3 linked regions of the Homo sapiens genome follow. The protein of the gene in region 1 purifies or fractionates together with the protein of each later gene. This does not show direct contact. Each region holds a gene or a part of one and is shown in the gene's direction. Other genes may lie near its edges.

What was found.
Region 2: the proteins of CD5 (region 1) and RASA1 purify together in Homo sapiens (affinity purification with western blotting; one study listed by BioGRID and IntAct). This does not show direct contact.
Region 3: the proteins of CD5 (region 1) and ZER1 purify together in Homo sapiens (affinity purification with mass spectrometry; one large-scale study listed by BioGRID and IntAct). This does not show direct contact.

The regions. Positions count from the first base shown.
Region 1 is NC_000011.10:61,115,989-61,119,488, forward strand, and holds part of CD5 (T-cell surface glycoprotein CD5 isoform 1 precursor), read left to right. Parts: intron 1-2,186; coding exon 2,187-2,492; intron 2,493-2,926; coding exon 2,927-2,989; intron 2,990-3,245; coding exon 3,246-3,500. UniProt on the Homo sapiens protein: Lymphoid-specific receptor expressed by all T-cells and in a subset of B-cells known as B1a cells. Plays a role in the regulation of TCR and BCR signaling, thymocyte selection, T-cell effector differentiation and immune tolerance.
Region 2 is NC_000005.10:87,372,383-87,375,882, forward strand, and holds part of RASA1 (ras GTPase-activating protein 1), read left to right. Parts: intron 1-1,780; coding exon 1,781-1,938; intron 1,939-2,457; coding exon 2,458-2,534; intron 2,535-3,500. UniProt on the Homo sapiens protein: Inhibitory regulator of the Ras-cyclic AMP pathway. Stimulates the GTPase of normal but not oncogenic Ras p21; this stimulation may be further increased in the presence of NCK1.
Region 3 is NC_000009.12:128,765,428-128,768,927, reverse strand, and holds part of ZER1 (protein zer-1 homolog), read left to right. Parts: intron 1-3,500. UniProt on the Homo sapiens protein: Serves as substrate adapter subunit in the E3 ubiquitin ligase complex ZYG11B-CUL2-Elongin BC. Acts to target substrates bearing N-terminal degrons for proteasomal degradation with the first four residues of substrates being the key recognition elements.

The DNA.
Region 1 (3,500 bases):
ACCCCACCAATGTTAGGTGTTGAGACGCGCTCGTTCTCCCTCTAACCAGCCAAGTGCCCTTGGCGAGCCCTGGCCCTGAGCTTTGGCCCCAGAGTGTCCTCGTCGGAAGAAAAGGGTAGCCTGACCCGTGGTTCCCGACCAGGGAAAACCTCCCCCTCAGAATCACCTGGGAGAGCCTTTCACATTTCTAAAAATTTCTTGAATCAGTGACACATTCATCCAGCTCAAAAATTTAAAAAAATATAAAAAGATCTGTAGTGAAGAGTCTCACTTCCATCTCTATTCCCGTCTATCCCAGTCGCCCCCGACGTCGACCCCAACACCCCAGGTAATGACTACGTTTATTTGTTTCTTGCATATTCTTCAAGGAGCTCTTTATGCAAATACACACACACACACCCCACACAGACCCCACACACACACCACACATACACACAACCACACCACACACACACACCACCACAAACACCACACACACACCGCACACCACATACACACCCCACACACACCACCACACCACACACACACACCACCACACACACACCCCACACCACACACACACACCACACACACCACACACACACCACACACACCACATGCACACTACACACCACACACCACACACATACCACACACACACCACACACACCACACACACCCCACACACACCACACACACCACACACACACACTACACACACCACATACACACCACACACACCACATGCACACTATACACACCACACACACACCACATACACCACACACACACCACACACACCACGCACCACCACACACACACACCACCTGCACACTACACACACCACACACACATACAACACACACAACACACACACCACCACACACACATCACACACACCACACACACTACACCACACAGACACACACACCACACACACACATATATTTTTCCCCTCATGGAGTTTGATAAAATCACACAAGACACATGTCTACCCATGACCCAGCAATTCCATTCCTAGGTATTTACCCAAGAGAAATGGAAACGCCCACACAAAGACCTGTATGTGAATGTTCACAGCAGCCTTATTCATAGTAGGCAAAACCCGGAAACAAATCAAATGGTGAATGGAAAACAAATTGGCATGTCCGTGTAGTGAACTATCATTCGGCAATAAAAAGGAATGAACTACTTATGCGTCCAGTGACATAGCTAAATCTCAAATACATGCTAAGCGAAAAAAGCCAAATCAAACAAAATAAAATCCATGCTGTATGAGTCCATGTCTATGACATTGTAGCACAGGCAAAACTCATCTTTTGTGACAAAAAGCAGATCAGTGTTTGCCTGAGGCTAGATTCAGGGAAATTAACTATAAAGGGGCCTTAGGGAACTTTCTAGATGATGGAAATGTTCCATATCTAGATTATGGTGGTGGTTACATGCATGTATACATTTGTCAAATTCCATCGAACAGTATCCTTAAAATGAGTGCATTTCACTGTATGTAAAATTACCTCAATAAAATTTTTTTTTTTTGAGATGGAATCTTGATCTGTTACCCAGGCTGGAGTGCAGTGGCGCGATCTTGGCTCACTGCAACCTCTGCCTCCCGGGTTCAAGCAATTCTCCTGCCTCAGCCTCCCGAGTAGCTAGGATTACAGGCGCCTGCCACCACACCCAGCTAATTTTTGGTATTTTTTCTTTTTTTAGTAGAGATGGGGTTTCACCATGTTGGCCAGGCTGGTCTCAAACTCCTGACCTCAGGTGATCTGCCCGCCTCAGCTTCCCAAAGTGCTGGGATTACAGGCATGAGCCACCACACCTGGCCTAAAATTAATTTTTAAAGATCTCTTAAAAAGCAGACACCAGCCCCAATCTCAGACCCCTTGAGACAGAATTTCCAGGACAGGGGCCATCCTGCTGGACAGTGGGTGCCGAGAACACCTTGCCCATTTATCTGAGCTCCCTTCTGACTCTGAAATCTGGAGCCCCACCCTCCTGGGTCTAGCTTCGGGGCTGCCTGGGTCAGGGTCCTCTGGGAAGCCCCTGCAGTGCCCCAGAAGGGACGAAGCTCACAAGGGGCAAGGCAGGCAGCCCACGGGGCAGGAGGGAGCTCAACTGGGCGTCCTAGGGAGAGGGCAGTGAGGGGTGCCAGTGGGGAACCCCTCCCAGCCTGACCCCCACCACACCTTTCTGACCCCCAGATTTCCAGGCAAGGCTCACCCGTTCCAACTCGAAGTGCCAGGGCCAGCTGGAGGTCTACCTCAAGGACGGATGGCACATGGTTTGCAGCCAGAGCTGGGGCCGGAGCTCCAAGCAGTGGGAGGACCCCAGTCAAGCGTCAAAAGTCTGCCAGCGGCTGAACTGTGGGGTGCCCTTAAGCCTTGGCCCCTTCCTTGTCACCTACACACCTCAGAGCTCAATCATCTGCTACGGACAACTGGGCTCCTTCTCCAACTGCAGCCACAGCAGAAATGACATGTGTCACTCTCTGGGCCTGACCTGCTTAGGTGGGTAACTAGCCAGCCACACGGGCACCCTGGGCCTGGGCGCCAGCCCCGAGGAGACTGCCCGAGGCCTGTGATCTAGGGTCTGAGCAGGCTGGTGGAAGGGGTGGGGGGACCCCAGTTTATAACCACTCCCCAAGACACATACCCAGGAGGGGGACTGGAAGGGGCCAGCACCCATCTGTAGGATGGCAATGGAGGACCTAGTTCTGCCAATCACTGACTTCATCGTCGCCTCTGAACCTCCATTCTCCCATCTGTGAAGTGGGGTGGTACTTCCCGCCTCGCAGGAGGCTTAGAGACAACGTGTGGGTCAAGTGGACCTGGTGTGCCAAGCGGCACTCATGCCAGGAGCTCCTGGTCCTCTCAAGGCTGCTGGCTGCCCCCGGCCCTCCCCACACCACCCATTCCTCCCTCACCAGAGTGTCTCATTGCAGAACCCCAGAAGACAACACCTCCAACGACAAGGCCCCCGCCCACCACAACTCCAGAGCCCACAGGTAAGAGGATTCTGAACCCCCCACAGGGAGTCAGAGCTAGCAAATAAAAACCCAGGATGCCCAGTTACATTGGAATTTCTGACAAAGGTGGAAATGTTTAGTATTGGTGTGTTCTACGCAATATTTGGGACCCCATCACCTCCCAAGGCTAAGCGTTAGTCAGTAGTTGTCCACAAGTTGGGGCCAAACAGCAAGGAGTGCCCAGGAAGCCCTCGGCGCTCAGGGTGGCTCCCCCTCCTGCTCTCTCCTCTCCTAGCTCCTCCCAGGCTGCAGCTGGTGGCACAGTCTGGCGGCCAGCACTGTGCCGGCGTGGTGGAGTTCTACAGCGGCAGCCTGGGGGGTACCATCAGCTATGAGGCCCAGGACAAGACCCAGGACCTGGAGAACTTCCTCTGCAACAACCTCCAGTGTGGCTCCTTCTTGAAGCATCTGCCAGAGACTGAGGCAGGCAGAGCCCAAGACCCAGGGGAGCCACGGGAACACCAGCCCTTGCCAATCCAATGGAAGATCC
Region 2 (3,500 bases), on another chromosome or scaffold:
GTTAAAAACATAAGAAAGATTATTCTTCCACTTTAAATAACAACACTAAACCAACACAGCAGAAACGGTTCTGTTGGGCACTTAATTTTCCTTCAAAAACTTATTTTGGCCTCTTTCAAAAAAGTAGAACATTGAAAAGATCATCAGATTTATAGCACTAATCCCAATAAACTTTTTTGGGATTTTCATTTTGAAGAACAGCTTTTAAAACCTACTGCTTAACTCTTAGGAAATATTTAATCTTATTTGAAACTGTAACATGCCCTATACTTTGAGATTTGTGGAGAGTTAAGCTAGGCTTTCTCTTTTTTTTGCCTTTACAAGGGTAACTTTATAACCTCCATTTCTTGGCTTTTTTCTTTTTAGTAATCCCTGTATAATTGGAAGAAGTTAGGCAAATTTTGACATTCTCAAGGTTTAAAGAAAGTTTAGTACAATATTTATTTACTAACCAAAGTGTCTCCTGTTCTCTTTGTGCGAATATCTGATAAGCTGAGTGATTAACATACTGTTCTACTGGGAGTGGATAATGGTTGATATTTAGGTGACTAAATAGTCCCTGTAACCCAAAGTCTGGCTCTTCCCCAGGGAAATTTAAGTATACACACAATCGCCATGTCTTCATAACATTGTAACATTTTGTAAGCTATCAAAAATCAGATTGGATTTTTGCTAATAAGAGCAAGTTGTATTTTGTGTGAAACTTGAGCCATTAAAATGACATTTGCAGGTTTAATATAATCATAGCTAACATCTCTCAAGCACTTTTTATGTATCAGTGGGCAGTGTGATTTAGTGATTTACATATACTGTCAGCCCTTTCTATTCATGGGTTCTGCATCAGTGGACTCTACCAACCATGGGTCGAAAAAATACAATAAAAAGATACAGTATAACAACTATGTACATAGCATTCACATTGTATTAGGTATTACAAGTAATCTAGAGATGATTTACGGCATACAGGGGGGCATGCATAGATTTTATGCAGATACTATGTCATTTTCTATACGGGACTTGAGCATCTTGGGCTTCGTTAGCTGCCAGGACAGAGAGGTGGAGGGTCTTGGAATCAGTCCCCCACAGATACTGAGGGATAACTAGTTTGTAATACTTATTACAACCTGTAGTGTAGACTTTATACTTACATATTAGAAAGATGAGGCTTAGAGGGACGGATTTGTGCAAGGCCACACAAGTAGTATATGGCAAGAGAGAAAGAGAACCTGATACTAGAAGGTGGATGGTCTAAGTTTTGGCATCCAAACTAACAAATAACTTAGTTTCTTTAGGTTTGTATCCTTTCCTGTAAAATAAGAAGGTAAAGTCAGTGTTTTAAAAATTTTTAGCTGTGGAACTCTTTTATAGAAATAGAATCTTCCAGATAAGTATTATATAACATACGGGATTTTAATTTGAGTAGTGACAGTTGTTTACTTATATTAATAAAGAATTTTCTTCTTAACTTCATTTTCTCTTTATCATTGTTTTATGGTAGAAAAGGTGTATTTCATTATTTCTCCAGGAATATACTGGGAGAAATAACTTGTAAAATAAAATTGCATTGTTTTTATCTTTTAGGTGGGAAGAATTATTTTAAATGTCTGAATGTTTTAAGTATGTCATATACAAATATATAACCAAAGCTCACATTTTCTGAAAAAAAAGGGGAAAATAAGTCATTATTTTTGGCTTTGTATCTTAGAGTAATTGCTTTTGAAATGTAGTGCAATTCTAGAAATCTGGGGTAATATATATATATATATTTTTTTTTTTTTAGGTCAGCAGCCTTGTTTTACATATTGAAGAAGCCCATAAACTCCCAGTAAAACATTTTACTAATCCATATTGTAACATCTACCTGAATAGTGTCCAAGTAGCAAAAACTCATGCAAGGGAAGGGCAAAACCCAGTATGGTCAGAAGAGTTTGTCTTTGAGTAAGTCTTATTTTATCATTACATTAATCATTTTCTTTTACCATATTGCATTTCTTTCTGTTTTTTTGGTCTCTGTATCTAAACCATCAGAACAAGGTACCATATCCAGGTGTTCTAATAGCATATATATATATATATATTTTTTTTTTTTTTTTCTGTTGTTTGTTCACCTTTATTTGTGAAGTGCTATGCCCTTGGTTTTTCCACTTAGTTATTAACATGAATTAGCAAGTCAAAAAACATTTACTAACCCACAAATACAAAACATTTACTAGGGTTTCCAGTACTTATTTGAATGAATTATTAGTTTAGGAGGTTAAAGATGGTAGGAAAAGTGTGTAATCTGCGTGTCTTCTGTATACCAAATAATAAAATATGTTGTGAATCTGGTTTTAGGTCTAGCACACTGTTTTTTTTTTTAAAGCAGAAATAGGGGGTTTATTTGATACTAGAACTAAAGAAATAAGGTAGTTTGATGCCAAAACATTTTGTTAATTCTTTTTCTCCTTGCTCCTTTAGTGATCTTCCTCCTGACATCAATAGATTTGAAATAACTCTTAGTAATAAAACAAAGAAAAGCAAAGATCCTGATATCTGTAAGTTGATACAGAAACTTTCTAAAATAGAAAAAGCATGTTTTATATACTTTCAAAATTCACAATGAAAGTCTTAAAATAGAAATTAAAAAAACAGAAATGCAAGTAGTATAATTTGAGATAGTTTCTTTCTGTACTTCTTAAAGTATTGATTATCAAGAAAGAATATACCTAAGATAGAAAAAGACCAATATGGTTCAACTGTACACACTGTTAAGCAATTAAGATTAAAATATTTAGCCACCCTCCTTTCTCCAATGAATAGGAAGAATAAGGAAATGATTACAGTGGTCTTTTTGTAGGGCTTGCCCTCATCCCTTCTTTCTACTTTTTAGGTTTTTCCTGCTTTTTTTTTTCTTTTGAGATGGAGTCTTGCTCTTGTTGCTCAGGCTGCAGTGCAGTGGTGTGATCTCGGCTCACTGCAACCTCCGCCTCCCAGGTTCAAGCAATTCTCCTGCCTCAGCCTCCTGAGTATCTGGGACTACAGGCGCCCGCCACCATACCTGGCTAAGTTTTGTATTTTTAGTAGAGACGGGGTTTCAGCATGTTGGCCAGGCTGGTTTCAAACTCCTGACCTCAGGTGATCTGCCGGCCTCGGCCTCCCAAAATGCTGGGATTACATTACCATATAAGTAAAAAAGTATTCTATTTAAAAATTTCCCTTAAACTTGAATGTCATTTATTCTATTTAAAAATTTCCCTTAAACTTGAATATGTCACTTATTCACTTCTGGTAGTCAAAGGCTCCCAGTTCCTGTCCTCAGCAGCACAGCTCCTTCCATCCTGCTGCTAAAACAGTTGACAGTGAGATTTACCAGTTCACATCAGGGTGAATTAGGTTAATACCTTCTTAAAACTCAGGCTTAGGGAAGGAAGTGATATGTATTAACAGATCAAAGCCTGAATATTTCTCTATAAAATGTTTATTCTGTAGTTTTTTGTAGTAATTTTAGTTTTCCATTACTT
Region 3 (3,500 bases), on another chromosome or scaffold:
CCATTCTACCACGTAAAATAGGCAAAATGAGGGTGTTGAAATGAATGTGACTTGGAGACAGGTGGGGAGGGGCAGTGTATGCTGGGCCTAGATATGTGGTTGGAGTGTGCGTGGCTGATCTACGGGTAGAGGCTGGTGATCCGGAAGTGCCCGGCAGAGGCTGAGACTTTCCAGCCTGCTTTATAGGAAGCAGAACCACAGTTGATCTCCCTCCTTATACCCCAAGCCCGGACTATATCCTCAGGCCTGGGACACAGGCTGAGCAGGGCAACTGGGCCAGAGAATTTGAAAATGAAAGGTCAGAGCACTTAGGAGCTGAGAGCCAGCATGTTGGGGTAGGCTGTTGTGGGTAGAACCCCAGGCTGGTGACCTGCGGACCTGGTTCAAATCCCGGCTCTGCTGTTGGCTTGCTGTGTGAGTTAGGCAGGTTCCATCTCCTCTCTGGGCCTCAGTTTTCCTATTTGTAGATTAAGAATAATGGCCTTCCCTTGCCTCCGACTAACTCTAAAGGCTGTTGGGAGGATGAAATGAGACACAGCTTGTGAAAGAATTAGGTGTGTTCTGAAGCTCTCTACAAAGGTATTATCATTAGTACCACTAGGATTATGCAGACACGTTTTGGGGGCCCACTAGCTGGAAGACTGCTCTTGGCACTCTGGTTTTTTTGCTTGGCTTCAGTACCTCATCTGTTCTGGAGTCCTGAGAGGTGAGTGCAGAGACCCCTGTCTGGTTATCTATTTGTGGACCACTGTCTTATATCTGGCGCAATCGCTGAAACTGATTTTCCAGCTTCAGAGATGCAGAAGGGTCTCTTGAAGCATTATTCTCAGGAACATCACTCTTCATAATTATTGGTTACCACCTTCCTGCCATCCTTTCATGGCATCTCCTCAGCAACCCTGTTCACAACACGCGCAACACAGCGTGTGCCACTCGCAACATGCTGACAGGTAAGGACCTTGATAAATATTGAGGCTGGAAAACATTGGCTGGGGATCTTGTGGAGCCGAGGCCCTGTCACTGGCATTGAGCCACTCACATACTCTGTAATGGAGACCCCAGAAATCACATAGGGTCCCTGCCCTCAGGAAGCTTTCAATGCTGTGGCCAAAAAATGACATGCCACGGAGTGGTTACCAGCAGTACTGGATCATGTGAGCTCAGTGCCTGAGTTGTAAGGAAGCGGCGGAGGCTCGTGGAACAGAAGGGAAAGCTGAGGTTGGAGAAATGGTCCCTCCCCATAGCATAATGGCAAGGGGCTCGAACTTTAGGGTCACACACTTACCGGAGGAACAACTCATTGCTCATCTTTCAACCATTGTTTCCTTATCTGGGAAACAAAATGATAATGTATTATCATATTGATAAAATGTTATCTGTGGCAGCTGGGTGCGGTGGCTCACACCTGTAATCCAGCACTTTGGGAGGCTGAGGTGGGCGTATTGCTTGAGCCCAGGAGTTTGAGACAAGCCTGGGCAACATGGTGAGCCCTCATCGCTACAAAAAATAAAAAAATTAGCCAGGTCTGTTGGTATACGTCTGTAGTCACAGCTACTCCAGAGGCTGAGGTGGGAGATTGCTTGAACGTGAGAGGTGGAGGTTGCAGCGAGCTGAGATCGTACCACTGCACTCCAGCCTGGGTGACAGAGTGAGACCCTGTCTCTTAAAAGAAAAATAAATAAATAGGCCGACCGCAGTGGCTCACACCTGTAATCCCAGCACTTTGGGAGGCCGAGGCAGGTGGATCACCTGAGGTCAGGAGTTCGAGACCAGCCTGGCCAACATGGCAAAACCCTGTCTCTACTAAAAATACAAAAATTAGCCTGGCATGGTGGCGGGCACCTGTAATCCCAGCTACTTGGTTGGCTGAGGCAGGAGAATTGCCTGAACCCAGGAGGCAGAGGCTGCAGTGAGCCGAGATTGTGCCATTGCACTCCAGCTTGGGCAACAAGAGCAAAATTCCATCTCAAAAAAAAAAAGAAAGAAAAATAAATAAATAAATAAATAAGTTATCTGTGACTTTGATGCGAACTGCTTGGAAAGCTGGACACACTGGGTCTTTTTTTTTTTTTTTTTTTTTTTGAGACGGAATCTTGCTCTGTCACCCAGGCAGGAGTGCAGTGGTGCAATCTCGGCTCACTGCAACCTCTGCCTCCTAGGTTCAAGCGATTCTCCTGCTTCAGCCTCCTAAGTAGCTGGGATTACAGGCATCCGCCACCATGCCTGGCTAATTTTTGTATTTTTAATAGAGATGGAGTTTCACCATGTTGGCCAGGCTGGGCTCGAACTCCTGACCTCAGGTGATCCACCTGCCTTGGCCTCCCAAAGTGCTGGGATTACAGGCGTAGGCCACTGTGCCCAGCCTGACACACTGCGTCTTGAACTAATGAACTACCTGTGTACATATCTGTCTGTTCAGATCCATAGTCTCTGGCAAATTGCATAGCCATAGCCCCTTCCTTCCAGCTGCCTTTTCTGTAAGTTGTAGATGGTAACTCCTGCCTTGTTGGGTGTTGAGAGAATTCAATTAATTAACACATATAAAATACTTAACAGAGTTCTTTTTTTTTTTTTTTTTTTGAGATGGAATCTTGCTCTGTTGCCAGGCTGGAGTACAGTGGTGCAATCTTGGCTCACTGGAACCTCCACCTCCCGGGTTCAAGCAATTCTCCTGTCTCAGCCTCCTGAGTAGCTGGGACTATAGGCGCCCGCCACCACGCCCTGCTAATTTTTGTATTTTTAGTAGAGACAGGGTTTCACCATGTTGGCCAGGATGGTCTCAATCTCTTCACCTCGTGATCCGCCCGCCTTGGCCTCCCAAAGTGCTGGGATTAGAGGCGTGAGCCTCCACGCCCAGCCAGAATTCTTGGTATATACTTGGTATTCAGTATGGGTAGGATCATTAATACATTTGGTTACAAGAATAGAACCCAACCAGTCTGATTACTAGCCGAATGCAGCCTCCTCAAGGCCTCTCTGTCTCCAGCATCATGAGCAGCCACCTAGCTGTGAGGCACACTCCCCAATTATTGTGTGTCTGCATCTTTCTGACATAACCCAACTCATAGATTTAATCTCTGCAGACTTTTCAGAGCCAGGTGGCGTCTGGTTTTCACCTGTTTCCCGACCACCTGGAGATCCCCACACTTGCTGTGACTCCCCTCACACCCCCAGTCTCTGGCCCTTGATCTGCTGCCTCCTGGAAAGCGTCTAGCCTCTGTAAATAGGGCATTTGTTTGGGTTTTCCCCCCAGCTCCTAGGTTAATATTTCACAGGGTGAGTACTGCTCCAAGGCTCAGAGCTTCTGGCTCCCCCAACCTCTCTGTCCTCTGGGTATCAGGACACTGGTGGGATCCCATGCTCCCACCTCCAGACTTCAGTTTCTCTTTCCCTCCCATTGTTTGGATGGATGGACTGAAGACCAAATATTTGGTGAGAAGCGGGGGTCTGCTTTAGGTTTGCATCCCACTCTCATCAGTTTTGTGATCTCAGGCAAGCTT